Homo sapiens: one gene and its partners. The protein of the gene in region 3 purifies or fractionates together with the protein of the main gene of each other region. This does not show direct contact. Each region holds a gene or a part of one and is shown on either strand. Other genes may lie near its edges.

The links.
Region 1: the proteins of KCNAB1 (region 3) and ATIC fractionate together in Homo sapiens (co-fractionation; one large-scale study listed by BioGRID). This does not show direct contact.
Region 2: the proteins of KCNAB1 (region 3) and SLC35F6 purify together in Homo sapiens (co-immunoprecipitation; one large-scale study listed by IntAct). This does not show direct contact.
Region 4: the proteins of KCNAB1 (region 3) and EPHX4 purify together in Homo sapiens (co-immunoprecipitation; one large-scale study listed by IntAct). This does not show direct contact.

What each region holds. Positions count from the first base shown.
Region 1 is NC_000002.12:215,332,514-215,336,058, reverse strand, and holds part of ATIC (bifunctional purine biosynthesis protein ATIC), read right to left. Parts: intron 2,710-3,545; coding exon 2,602-2,709; intron 1,141-2,601; coding exon 1,055-1,140; intron 25-1,054; coding exon 1-24. UniProt on the Homo sapiens protein: Bifunctional enzyme that catalyzes the last two steps of purine biosynthesis.
Region 2 is NC_000002.12:26,767,239-26,770,783, reverse strand, and holds part of SLC35F6 (solute carrier family 35 member F6 precursor), read right to left. Parts: intron 1-3,545. UniProt on the Homo sapiens protein: Involved in the maintenance of mitochondrial membrane potential in pancreatic ductal adenocarcinoma (PDAC) cells. Promotes pancreatic ductal adenocarcinoma (PDAC) cell growth. May play a role as a nucleotide-sugar transporter.
Region 3 is NC_000003.12:156,126,687-156,130,876, reverse strand, and holds part of KCNAB1 (voltage-gated potassium channel subunit beta-1), read right to left. Parts: intron 1-4,190. UniProt on the Homo sapiens protein: Regulatory subunit of the voltage-gated potassium (Kv) Shaker channels composed of pore-forming and potassium-conducting alpha subunits and of regulatory beta subunits.
Region 4 is NC_000001.11:92,036,440-92,039,984, reverse strand, and holds part of EPHX4 (epoxide hydrolase 4), read right to left. Parts: intron 1-3,545.

The sequences.
Region 1 (3,545 bases), on a different chromosome or scaffold from region 3:
TGGGGCAATTATACCATCAGATACCTGCAAAAATATTAAATTTTAATTTCTATTTTTAAAAATCAGAGAACACCTCTTAAAAAAATCTAGCAGCAATTATCAGTCTTAAATAATGTGGCAGCATATTCTGGTTTCTGCCTCCAACAAACAATGCTAACGCTATACTTGAAAAGAGAAATCTATTAGAATACAGCTTTCTGTATAGCAGATCCTAACTTTCTGTCCTCTCCAAGTTTTTGTTCGTTTCAGTTTAAACTAAGAAAATATGACTGATTTGCTCTTAACACATGTACCTCAGGAGGAAATATTTCTTCAGGGAGTGTTTTGAATGAGCAAGAGCACATTCTAGTCCTGACTCTCCTAGTACATGGTTAAATGACCTCTTCCGGCAAGGCGTTTTCCTTAACAGCAAGACCAGATTAAATCAGAGATTTGACATGACGAAAGATACAAATGTCACAGCCCTCCTGTAACCTGTAACCCAGGGATGGCAGTGGCCATGGAAAGAATCCTAAAGCAACAAAATAGTGCCAAGCCACATGCTCCTTCAGCCTTCACCTCTGCTTATTTTTTTCCCCTTTCTGAGCTATTTAATCTTTTTCTCTTTTCTTCCTGTCTTCCTACTACCAACAGTACCCCCACCTGTCTGGAATACCTGTTTGGTATTCAACTGATGGGGTAAGTTTATTAATGTAGTTTCTGTTTTTTACCCACTATGCAGTAAGATGGATTATATCGCATCACCACCTAAAATTACAACTTCTGCTCTTCAGAAACAGTAACTTTGGCATGAAGACAACAAAGAATTTAAAATAAATATATAAGTAAAAAACATCATAACAGCCAAATATCCATCTGAAACAATAATTCACTACATTTCAAAATTAACAATTTAAGATTAATGTTCTATTTAAAATATGAACATTAAATGATAAACTTAGCTAATTAAAAGATATTATAAATATAAATATTATAGGTTATGGTTTCAATTAACATTATGAACAAATAAAGCTTTATTCAACACACAGATTAAGATACATGAATGTCCACTAACTTCTCTGGAAATAATTTTTGCAGTTGGTACATCACAAACATCGGACAATGCAACAAAATCACCAAATGAAGACATCCTATCAGCCCCTGTAAATAAAATTAAAATGAGGTATTTATCACAAAGTATCCTGATACAGAAAAAGTAATAAAATTCTCCACTGTCATATAAAATTCATTACTCTAAAGCTAATCTTACTGTTTACATAAGATTTTAACAGATCAATAAGTCATTTAACTGAAGTAACCAGTAAGAAAGTATTCTTTAATTTTACCCTCTAGAGTGACACTCAGAAAACTTTTTCTGTGAAGGACCAATTTATATATACTATATTCACAAAAACAGGGTGGCAGGCTGGATTCAGCTGAAGTTGCTGACCACTGCTGTAGATGATAAACTATGGTAATAGTTTCTCAAGAACTTTCAGAAATACTAAAGGGATATTCATGGGTTATTAAATTCAACAAGTAAATGTCTCTGATAAAACATGACTCTAACCAAATGTAGTAAAGTTAGAAGAGCCATAAATCACGCCTGTAATCCCAGCCCTCTGGGAGGCTGAGGCAGGTGAATCACTTGAGGTCAGGAGCTCAAGACCAGCCTGGCCAACATGGTGAAACCATGTCTCTACTAAAAATACAAAAAAATTAGCCAGGTGTGGTGGCACGCACCTGTAATCCCAGCTACTCAGGACGCTGAGGCAGGAGAATCGCTTGAACCCAGGAGGTGGAGGTTGCAGTGAGCTGAGATGGCGCCACTGCACTCCAGCCTGGGCAACAGAGCAAGAAGCTGTCTCAAAAAAAAAAAAAAAAAAAAAAGAATAGCTTTTTGTAATTTCAATTTTGGTCACATATTAAACAATAACAAATGCATTCAATAGCCTAAATTAGCAAAATTACATTGACCAAATTCCAATTGTGTTTCCATTTATTACACTAAAATACTAACAAATACTTTTTTTTTTTTGAGACGGAGTATCGCTCTGTCACCCAGGCTGGAGTGCACTGGCGCTATCTTGGCTCACTGCAAGTTCCACCTGCCGGGTTCACACCATTCTCCTGCCTCAGCCTCCTGAGTACCTGGGACTACAGGTACCCCCCACCACGCCCAGCTAATTTTTTGTATTTTTAGTAGAGACGGGGTTTCACCGTGTTAGCCAGGATGGTCTCGATCTCCTGACCTCGTGATCTGCCCGCCTCAGCCTCCCAAAGTCCTGGTACTACAGGCGTGAGACATTGCGCCCGGCCTAAAATACTAACATACACTTTTATAAAGAAATGTATTTTGAGGTACTCACAGAATCAATCTCAAATATTAATAAAACAAATTAAATAGGAAATCCTATAATGAAACAAAGGGTATTTTACTTTAATCAAACTATATTATATAGAATAACTGTATATTTACATAGAGATAGAAGTCCTTAATTTCATCTATATATTATACAGAATATCTATATATTTTTTCTTTATTCTATCCTCTTTATTCTATTTAGGATAAAATATTGCTTTTTCTTTCTCCCCCAAATCAAAAAGCCCTATGAGTCTGACCTCTTGCTCTTGCATATGCCGCTGAGATGGGTGTGAGGGTTTTATAGAGATCATAAACCATGCAGACTTTGGCCTCATCTTCACTGAGTGGAATTCCAACAGCAGCACCTGGTTAGAAAATAGTAAAATCATAAACAAAGAAAGCTAAAGTTACTACCTGTCAACTCCTAAATCAAGACAGTTTTCTTAACACCCAGTCTACGCAGCACATTTTCTAGTGCCTGTGCTAAATTAAACAGAAATCTATTTAGCCAGATAATTATACACTAAAAATATGGTTGTGGGAGCAGTGTGAGGGAAATCTCCTCTCTGCCCTCCAAAACCACAGAGCCACTGAAGCCTGACAGTACCCAGCGTGTAGGTGAAGCTCGTTTACTTCATTACTGACTCACTCTTTCTCTCTGTTCTGCTTGATATCACTTTGATATCACACATCATTTATTTCTTCCCCACTCACATCACTTTAACACCCAATAAACACCTGAGAACAAATCATGTGCTGGAGGACTGTCAGCAAGATGTGGTGTACAGACAACTCAATTGCGGAGTTCATGATTTAAACACAGAAGCAAAGTATCTCATACAACGACTATAAGAAGTTTCAGATAAAGAGTCCAAAGAAGAACTTCTTTATGTTTACTCCATTACATTTTCAAAGATGTGGCACAAGACTTAGTCTATTGCATTAGGACATTTCACTTTTATTTTCTAAACTTTTATGGTTCCACCCCACAAACAAATTCCTGCCTCATTTTCCTGACAATATTACACAATTCTGTGTGTGTGTGTGTATCAGATTTTATATTATTACATTGATACTGTTATCAACAGATGACTTTCAGATTTCATAGCATGTCTATATTCACATTAGAACTTGTTAATATTCAAAAAAATTTAAGAAGAAATGCCTTTCGAACAATTCTGGAGCTTTCCAGAGCACAGAG
Region 2 (3,545 bases), on a different chromosome or scaffold from region 3:
TTGCTGTCAGTTCTTCACAACGTTTGTTGTTTGTTGTCTTTTGTTTTTGTTCTTGTTTTTTTTTTTGAAACGGAGCCTCCCTCTGTCACCCAGGCTGGAGTGTAGCAGCGCGATCTTGGCTCACTGCAACCTCTGCTTTCCAGGTTCAAGTGATTCTCCTGCCTTAACCTCCCAAGTAGCTGGGATTACGGGCACCCACCACCATGCCCAGCTAATTTTTATATTTTTTGTAGAGACGGAGTTTCACCATGTTGGCCAGGATGGTCTCGAACTCCTGACCTCAAGTGATCCACCCGTATCAATCTCCCAAAGTGATCGGATTACAGGTATAAGCCTCTGCGTCCGGCCAACAACGTTTGTTTTTTTGTTTTGTTTTTCAGACAGGGTATTACTCTGTCACTGAGGCTGGAGTGCAGTGGCACAATCACGGCTCACTACAGCCTCAGCCTCCCAAGGCTCATATGATCCTCTCACCTCAGCCTCCTGAGTAGCTGGGACTACAGGCATGGGCCACCATGCCCGGCTAATTTTTGTATTTTTTGCAAAGATGCAGCCTTGTTTATGCTGCCCAGGCTAGTCTCGAACTCCTGGCCTCAAGAGATTGACCTGCCTCAGCCTCCCGAAGTGCTGGGATTACAGGTGTGAGCCACTGCACCCAGCCCATGTTTCCTTAAATGCACAATTCATAGGACACTTCATGGGGACTGTCCCGTTAAGCCTTACAACAAGGATCCTCATTTTAGATGGGGACTCTGAGGCTTAAGGCAGATCCAGGGTTAAACCTTGCTTGAATTTATACTCAGAAAAGGCAGAATACAGAGAAAACCCAGAGTTTTGAGTCCCACAGGCTGGACAAGTTACAGGGTAATCATACCAACACTGACAAACTGTCAGAAGCAATACATGATATAAGGATATATACATGACCTGGCACATGGCAGGTATTCAGCAAAACTCATTTTCTGCCCCTTCTCCTTTCCCTTCACTGAGCAGAAGCCATCTCCCCCTTGGGTTCAGCGTGGCCCCAGCTCCCCTTCAGCCTGAAAGCTACTGGAAAAACGTCTGGAACCTGTCCTGCTGGCTGAGGCAGAGGTGGCTGGAGGGACCTCAGGCTATTGTCCCTGCAGTTCACAGAGCCAAAATGCTGAAACAGAAGAAACTCAGCCATCAGCTGAACTCCTTATTTGACAGACAGGAACCCAGGGGCCAGAGAGGGCTCGAGGGGCTCACGGCTCCTCAGATGTTGAAACAGGGCCAGTACACTGGAAGCTCAGCAGGCAGTCATGCGCCCCCTCCCTGATGCTCTGAAGCTCTCCTCTGAGTTCTTGCTCCCCTAGCTGGTGGGAGGAGAGGGGCAGCCCAGTAGGTGGGCCTGTCTTCTCCACAGACACTGTATTCTAGGGGAGATGACCTCCAGGGCAGGAGGCCCGAAGGGTCCTAGCGGGGACAAGCTGAGGCCGCTCCTTTTGGCGGGCAGGCTGGGGAGTAGGCTCTCCGTGCTGGGTGGTGAGTCACTCCCTAGCATGGCCAGGCCCAAACTCAAAGCTCAGCATTCTGGGAGGTGTGCACGTCCACGTGAACGGGGGTGGCGAAAACAGACTGAGGAAGTGGCGATGGGGCTGGCTTGGGCAGATTAGCTGTGGCCATTCCCACAGAATCTCTGCCACTTCCTCTTGTGTCCCCAGCTTGTCAAGCCCAGTGAGTCCCCTTCTTTCTCCTGCCTGGGACCTACAGAAGGGCCAAGGCTTCTCCACTCTCTGGGGTGCCACAGCAGGTGGCCCTGGCTCCTGAGGTGACAATGGTGAGCCCTCTCATCTCCATGGAATGGAAAACTTTCCTTAAGCTGGGTGTGGTGGTGCATGCCTGTAATCCCAACACTTTGGGAGGCTGAGGCAGGTGGATTGCTTGAGCCCAGGAGTTTGAGACCAGCCTAGGAAACATGGCAAGACGCTGTCTCTACAAAAAATACAAAAATTAGGTGGGCACGGTGGCGGGTGTCTGTGGTCCCATCTACTTGGGAGGCTGAGGTGGGAGGATGGCTCAAGGTTGCAGTGAGCCTAGATGGCACCATTGCACTCCAGCCTGGGCAACAGAGAGAGACCGTGTCTTAAAAAAAAAAAAAAAAAAGGCTGGGCACAGTGGCTCATGCCTGTAATCCCAGCACTTTGGGAGGCCGAGATGGGCGAGGTCAGGAGATCGAGACCATCCTGGCTAACACAATGAAACCCTGTCTCTACTAAAAAAATACAAAAAAATTATCCGGGCATGGTGGCAGGCACCTGTAGTCCCAGTTACTCAGGAGGCTGAGGCATGAGAATGCGTTCACCCGGGAGGCGGAGCTTGCAGTGAGCTGAGATCACACCACTGCACTCCAGCCTGGATGACAGAGCCAGACTCCGTCTCAAAAAAAAAAAAAAAAGGAAACCTTCCTCAGTAGATCTTCAGTGTCCAGGAAGAAGGTACGGCAGGGATCACCAAGTCCATTTTACAGATGAGAAAACTGAGGCTCACAGAGGTCCAGTGGCTCATCTATTCCTCAGGTCCCAAGCCTCATGAACTTCCCACTCTACTACACTGTCCTCCTGAGTTAAGGCTTCCACAAGCTGGCCCAACAACCCCTTTGAAGCAATTATCCCATGCCAGTTCATGGAACCCAAGGGTGGTGGGGCAGCTGCCAAGGGCAAACATTGGAGCTGGCACAGAAAGGACACAGAAGAAGAGCAAACACCTCTTCTCTAGTAGAGGCCTAGTGGTTTCCAGGCTTCCTGCCACCTTCTTGGCAGGGTCCCTGGCCTGGGCATGAAAGGAAGTCAGGCTCATATCCCTGCCTGGCTGGGAGGGCCCTACAGCCTGCAGAACTTAGGAGGGGAGCTGAGCCTTACTTAGTGAGCATCTACTTGACCCTGGCTCTATTAATTAATTATTTATTATTATTATTTGTAGAGAACGAGGTCTCCCTATGTTGTCCAGGCTGATCTTGAACTCCTGGGCTCAAATGATCATCCCACCTCAGCCTCCAGTCTGGGATTACAAGCTGGAGCCACAGTGCCCAGCTGACCCCGGCTCTTCATATGTAGAACCTCAGTTGGATTCAGGAGACTGGGGTTCTGAAATGAGTACCTGTGGATGGGGCACTGGCTCACGTAGACAGAAATGGCTTGGCCTAAAGAAGATGATCGACAGAAGGTGCTAGTGAGGAGGTTTTGAGAAAACAGCCAGGGAAAGAAGAAGCCACTTCACAGGGAGGGGCCCCCTGCCAGGACCCAGGGATGGGGCCGCAGAGAGGAAAGCTGACCTGCCGCCCCAGCACAGCAGGCAGCACGTGCTCAGATGTGCTTCCTCATCCACTGCCTTTCATCCTCCCAAGAACCTGGGAAGGGAAACATCACTCTTGTCACAGGCCAAGAAACTGCCAGAGACAACCACAGGCTGTCAGTCTGAACCTTGAGTGGCCTGGACTCCAGCGGGAGGACCCTGTCAGCAGTGTCTCTGGGCTGGCTGAGAGGCTGGCAGCCCAGTCCTGGAGAGAGGCACATCAAAGGCTG
Region 3 (4,190 bases):
CCCTTTGCTATCCACCTAAGTGACTTCCCAACATTCCAGCCTCCCAGCCTTTTGATAGACAGGTGCAGGACAAGAAGCAAAGACTTCAAATGGGAGGGGAAGACATGACTGCCACATCCCGAGTTACAGAACCTTATAGTGTGGTGGAAAGTGAAGGTGAAAAGTGAAATTACTAAAATGACATCTTTGTAGTGATCAATAATCAACCCAAACTAGGGCAGGGAGCCATTCTGTTGAGTTGAGATGTGCATCTGCAGTCTGCAGCCTGAGTCTCCAGATTCAAGTACTGGCTTTATCACATGCTTAACTGGCTAACATTGGGCAGGATCATTTTTAAGGCTCAATTTCCTTCCACAAAGTGAAGATCATAAAAATAGGCATCACATGCACATGGATCATTGGGAAGGAATCAATGGAATATCTAAGGAATGTGCTAGCTATATAATAAATATTCAATAAACAGTTGTTGATATTAGGAAAAGAAGGCAGATGTCATAGACTTTGGTCAGCTCACCCAGGAAGGCTTGTTCAAGGTCAAGGAATGAAGGAATGAAGGCTACATCTACACCTATTTTTACTAGAAAAACAGATTGGGGTAACCATGCTCTTAAGCCATGTTCTAAGCTGACGTAGAGCCCATGTCCAGTGCAGAAGGTAATAAAAATAATAGCGAACACATAGATAGTGGTTTATAACATACAGAGCATTTTCACATATACTTTGGATCTAATCTTTAAAATCCTAGAAGATGGATAACACAGATGTTTTTATTTCCACCATATAGATGACAAAATCAAGGCTTGGAGAGGAGAGGTGTTTTGCTAAAATCCACACAACCAGCCAGAAACAGAGCTAGGATTTAAACCTAGGCCTTTTTATTCCAGAGTCAAGAGATGGATCCACTGTGCATGGAGAGAGGAAGTGTGAGACAGACAAGGCGTTTGGTCCATGTTAATCAGAAAAGATTTTAAATCAGGGTATGAATGAAAATCTTAGAACAAGTTTCTAAGTTAAACGAGGAGGGAAGCAGCATGTCAAGACCATTTGCTAAGGCTTGGAGAATTTTCCCAAGCTTGAGGGGCTCATAGAGAGACTCCTAGCTAAAGGAAGATCAGGGAGGCAAAATAACAGATGGCCTGATGGCACTTCAAAGGGGAATAGTAATTATGGCTTTTGCTGAAGGCCCCTTCCTATGCACTCAGCATTGTGCTAAAACTTTTATGGATATTATCTCATTTAATTTTCTCAACTCTATGAATATGTAACCCTGTTATTCTGATTTTACTGGTGAGAAGACTGAGGTTCCAGGTCACACAGATTGTAAGGGGTTGAATTTAGACCTAAGTCAGCCTGATATCAGAGCTTATATTAATGTGTCCCCAGTTTATATATCTGTGGTGACTTATAGAGGAGGCAAGAGGCACAACATCTCTAACTGGCTAATACCACAACTGCACAACAACCTGAAAAGTAAACGTGAAACTTTAATAAGCTAAGCTGTATAGCTAAGGCTAAATTTTAAACTCATGGTATGATATCACCACACCCCAGAGAAGCAGAGTATTCGGTACATAGAGACAGAACTAGAAAGGTTGACCTTCGATATGGAGTAGAATAACGAAGGCTCAAAAAGATAACCTGGAACATACTTAAGCATATTCAGCAGGGAGGTAGCTCAGGGAATATTTCATCCCCTTAATGGGAAAAGAAGAAAAAAAAAATCAACGACTGACAAAAAATGAATAGGCAGAACCACACTCTCCTTCACTGAAGGATATGGGTTGTAACAAGACTATGAGGTTGTTGTATGAATTAAACAGAACGACTATAAAAGCCCCGGGAAGAAGGCATGATGCTTTATAAATGCTTGATAATTATGAAGGAGATGAAAGAAATAGTCCTTTGTGTATCACCTTGAGGATTTTTGTCAGATCTCAATTCCACCACTACTTACAGTTAGTGAATGTTTTCCTCTCAATTGACTCATTTATTTTAAAACTTACCCTTGCGCCCTGCTCTCATAGCCATGAATTTATAGATTTTAGGTGTATGTTATATATTTCTTCCTAATATTCATGAAAATAAATTATCAACCCATTGAAAGATTTAATTTCCACATGCCCCCCAAAATTATCTTTGGCACAATTAGAGTGCCATAGTTTGGGAAACATTGAAAGCATGTAAAGAAGCCTGGACAAGGAACCAGGAGACCTGGGATCTGGGCCTAGATGATCAGGCACATCGCCTTTATGAGGCACGTTCCCTCACAGGAAAGTAGGAGAACACCTGCTCTATGTCATGTGAAGGCAAATGAGATAATGCACGACAAGACATTTTATAAACAAGGATACTACAAATTGTAGGTATTTGTGTTACTCTGTCTCCTTCTACTAAAGAACACTTTTTAAAAAATTAAACATATCTGTCAGTAATCAACCAATCACTAAAATAACACACTTTGAAAATCAAAGAGAATTTTTCTCCTTCTCCTACAACTTCAAAACAAAGTATCACCTCATCCCCTTTTTCTTTCAGAGATACTTCAGTTGCACTGTCTCTATAAACAACACAGTGTGCCCCTTTGGTCAGGTTTATGTCATTATACTCCACAGGCTCAAAGCTGGACAAAGCTCAAGGGATCATCTCGTCTAGTCTCATTATTTTACAGAGGAGCACTGATTTCTGGAGAACTTTAAAAACCTTACTTATGACCATACTGCAAAATGGGATTTGAATCATGTCTCCTGGCCCCTCAACCAATTTTCCTACTGTTACATGAGCCCATTCCCTGTAGCGGCAGAGAGATCTCAGAAAGAGGAGCCAGAGCTGATGCTCTATCTAATTTACCAACGTCCAGTTAGGAAAGAACCCTCTGGGCAAGTCAGAAGACTGAGATAGAGGCACTGCCTTCCAGGTGTCCACAGTTATTCAGAAGAAACCAGGTGCGCACGCACGTGCACACACACACACACACACACACACACACACACACCCCAAATGAAGAGGAATCTAAAACTGAGAAACTGGCTCAGTTTTGTCAAGATAACCAAAAAAGCAGTCACAGGGGTGCAGACTGAACCAAGTCCCTGTGCATTTGGCTACTCCCATGGAGTGGATGTGCCCGTCCAGGGATGTCTACTTCCAACTCACCACCCCAGTGGTGCAGCTACACAGGACAATGGCAGCTTCATGGCCAAGTCAAAGGACATCATCACCATCTTTAGTGGCCATGGCAACCCTAACCCTCCCCAGAGGCTGCTACTAGAATGCTGTAACTTTCTCTGGCTACCTAAATCCTGTCCTGTTGAGGTTCACTCTCCCACTCCTAGCCCAATCATTCAGTGGTCCAACATTTTCTCTAATATGCAAAACAACAGAACAATGAGCTAGGAGGCAATCTTTCTAGCATATAACTAAAATCACAGTAAACTACATAAAAATGTCCTCATATTCCAATATCTCTGAAAATAATACTTCTATGTGACTGCTCATGCAAACATGACAAGAATTACAGCCTTAGGGAGAATGTGCCTGCTCTAAGAAATAGATATCATATTTTAGAAAAGGAAGAGCTTTCTCTTCAACAACAAAAAATGAATTAATAGCTTTTTCTAGGAAAAAAAATATTGGTTGAATAATTTAGAGTTATTCCATTGTAGCTCACTTCCACCATTCCATACTCCATCCCTGATACCATCTTACTGATGCTGTCCACTATGTTCCAGGAATGTGGAAAAAGAGGAAAGTGGCAGAGGTGAGCACCAAAATTGATTGAGTGTCTAATCTACACCAGATGATTTACATCATTTCATGGAATCCTTATAGCAGTCTTATGAGCTAGATATTTTTATGCCCATTTACAGTATCAGTGTGAGTACACTCCAGAAAAGAGAGGCATCCCTACTTTTGGCATCTCCAATAACAATCTCATGATAATAGCAAGGGCATAGATCATGCGTCAGGAATGATGCTAAGACCTTTGTATAATATCATATTTACTACTATATGTGCCCACTGCTGTTCTGTGAGCTATACTTACTTAAGTCACTTGAGCTCCCGTAACAACCCTAAGGTATTACTGCCATCATTACCCACTTTTTATAGCTGAGAAGACTAAATCACATAGCTGATAATTGGTAGAGCCAGGGCTTGAACCCAGCAGCCTAGCTCCAGGATCTGTGGCCTCAACC
Region 4 (3,545 bases), on a different chromosome or scaffold from region 3:
AAAAAAGAAAATGCTAATAAACATGTCTTCTGGCTGGGCGCAGTGGCTCACGCCTGTAATCCTAGCACTTTGGAAGGCCAAAGTGGGCGGATGGCTTGAGGTTAGGAATTTGAGACCAGCCTGGCCAACATGGTGAAACCACGTCTCTACTAAAAATACAAAAATTAGCCAGGCGTGGTGGCGGACACCTGTAATCCCAGCTTCTAGGGAGGCTGAGGCAGGAGAATCGCTTGAACCCGGGAGATGGAGGTTGCAGTGAGCCGAGATCGAGTCACCGCACTCCAGCCTGGGCAGCAAGAGGGAAACTCTGTCTCAAATAAATAAATAAATAAATTAATTAAATAAACGTGTCTTTTTTGGCTAGACTGTAGTAATGTTGTTAATCTTGTCTGTGGATTGTAACAAATAAAGTAGCTTGTTTCCTTAAAGATACTCATCTGTCAACACATGTGATTGTATTTTTTCTGATTTGCCTTACTTAAAATTTTGAATTGATTTTTTATGTCTTCATAACTGAAGCCTAATTCTTCCCTCTTTATAATCCATCCTACCCAATCAATAAAGTTCTGTTCATTTAACCTCTTAAATATTTATTTAAACACTCTTGTCTACCATTCTATCATTACCTTAATTCAGGCCTCCATTTAGGCAGCAGCCTATTGCTTGGTCTAAGTGTGTCGCTTTCATTCCCCTCTGCTCTATCTTCTACAAAACCAGTGATGTAGCAAAGACACAAACTCATGTCATTTCGTTGCTGAAAATCCTTTCTTGACTCCCTATTACCCATAACATGAAGTTCTAGCTTATTATTCTAGCAGAAAAAAATCTGAAAGATTTGACTATTGCCCAATCTTCCAGCCAGATTACTTTGCACTCTGTCATTTGCTTTATAACAAAAAGAACTAACATCTATACCATTCTTACTACATACCAGGCCCAATTCTAAGTGCTTCTTGTATGGTAATATTGATCTTCAAAACAGTACTATGAAGTAGATATTATTATTATCTTCACTTAACAGATGAAGAAATGGAGGGAAAGCAAGGTTAATTGAAGTACCAAAGGTCACAGAGTCAGCAAACAGCAGAGCCAGGATTCCAGCCCAGGGAGTCTGGCCCCAGAGTCCATGTTATACTGCCTCTGCAGCACTAGGTTGAAATAGGTGAACAAATAGAGATATTGGTTTTTGCTTTTATGACTTTCTTCATATGGTTTCCTTTGTCTGAAATACCATCACTCCCCACCATTCCCCTATTACCCCATAATCCCTGACTCTCACCCCTCAATTAACTCATTATCACATTAGGCGTCTCCTTTTCTAGGAGACTTCCCAGCTCTCTCCATTACAGCTGGGGTGCGTGGGCCCCTTCCACGCTTTTGCACTTGTATGTGCACTCTTCAGGGCTGGGGCACACCTCACTTTTGATACCTGGCTCTTCCACGAGATCGTTTCCTGGGTCGTCTATGAGAATATCTAGCCCCTGTAGGTGCTTAATAAAGATTTGTCAAATAAATGAAACAACAAATGAATAAAAACACTGAATAATGATAGTGCTAGAAGTACCAGTTGTGCAGTAGGACTTTTGTCCCAGTTCAAACCTTGAGACAATGACAGCTAACGGTCCCAAATTCCTATTGGGGAATTTGTATTCAATTTCTGTTGAACTGCACGTTGTTTCAATACCTTAAGGGTCCGTGTCTTCATTTAGGATTTAATTAGAGATTTCAAGGTAGAAATTTGACTTTATATAATCCTGCAACATTTTACATTTAGAATTGGATTAGAGATTATGCAAACATGATGCTTCCATGTCATATTAGAAATAATTTAAATTGCCTTAAAAATAAATCCAGCTACTGCTTTTAACAATGAGTGAAGCCAAACAATATCCTAAACAATTCTAAGAAATAGGGCAACTGCATATTTTTAATAAATTACTAAGGAATAATTTTTAACTGTCATCTTCCTGAAGTTCATAAATAAAACACATTTGATGTACACATTAGCCCTAAACTGAAAAAGAAGTCACCCCAGTATTAGACTGATGGACATATCATTTACATGAATAAAGCGAAAACAATCTCCTTGATACAGGAATGAAACACATTACAAAAGCAGTAACCCTAAAAAGATTATAAATAAGCAAAACTATTTTCATCCACATTGCCTTTTTTCTGGTAGCTTTAGGTAATAGCAGAGGACACTCAGGAAAAATAACCAATCTCTTTCGCCGTGATTGCTCTTCACCTAGGAGGGCTCCTGGTTTTACCAGGTTACACTTTCAGATGTAGACTATCCTCCTCCTCTTTACCACAGAGAAATGCCACAGTTGTCAGCTTCTGTGCTCAGCTGTATGATGAAGGCCCCTCACTCGCCTTAGCACTTGAGTGATGACGCATGCATTCCATATAGCTGGAGACGAAGACGACTCAAAGAAATTGCCTGCCTCAGCTCAAAATATTTTTAAAGGAGATGCAAATTGAAGTGGAGAGAGAGAGTGGGAGAAAGATCATCCTTTGACAAACAGCCTTACTTGGGGTTAATTTAGTCAAAGGTCCTGTAGATGTGTATCTTGTTTAATATTTCCTTTAGATTTTAAGAAGACCCGGGATTTTATTGTTGCTGTGTAACAGCTAATTGTATACATGAAATATCACCATTTCTCGTCAGCTATTCTCAGGCAATGATGATAAATGCGATAATATGTTACATTTGCATGGTGCTTTTCTGTTTACAAAGCACTTTCACACACATTATCAATTCATTTTTTTTTGTTTTCACTGTATCAAATATTTGTTACCTACTTAATCTACAATCAAGCATACACTTTCATGTGTATTTAAGCAAAACTTAATTGCTAGAGGAATAACATTTACATTTGTAATGTAAATTGAAATTGGTTTGAAATGCCATGCATGAAGTTTTTTTGGCCTTTAAAATGAAAAAAATAAAAAAGAGTTTTGTCTTAAAACTTAAACCCTAGAGTTTTGTCCTAAATTCTAAGACCTTTTTTTTTTCCTGTTGTTTGTTTCCACTAGCACCTCAATGAGATTGACTAGACCTCATAATGGGTAACAGTGGCAATTTGATTGATTGAAAGGAAAGACAGAGTGAGCATCAACAGGGGTCTTGGTTTAGAGTATGACTCCAGAGATATCTGATTACCAACAATCTCCATGTAGTATTTTCAGATGCTCCCTAAACAACCAGGTAGCTTTCAGATTAATGATCAGCAAAGTTCAATGAATTCAATATGATCTATCTGAGTAGCTGAGCTATCTGCGTTTGTAGTTGTTGCTGTTTTAAATTCTACCAATGTTCTTTCTGGAGTAACAAATGACAGATTTAGTGAACAGAAGAGACTCATGCCTGTCTATGATCTTCACATATTTCTTAATCTATGGCTTTTCAGAGTGAAAATATTTCTAGGAGCTTCCCAAAAACTAAACTATTCCTCACAATGACCAAATCCCTTTTGGATACATCCAAGACTTGACTTTGCGGGGGCAAATGGGAATGATATCCAGGGACCAGTGCTGGACCC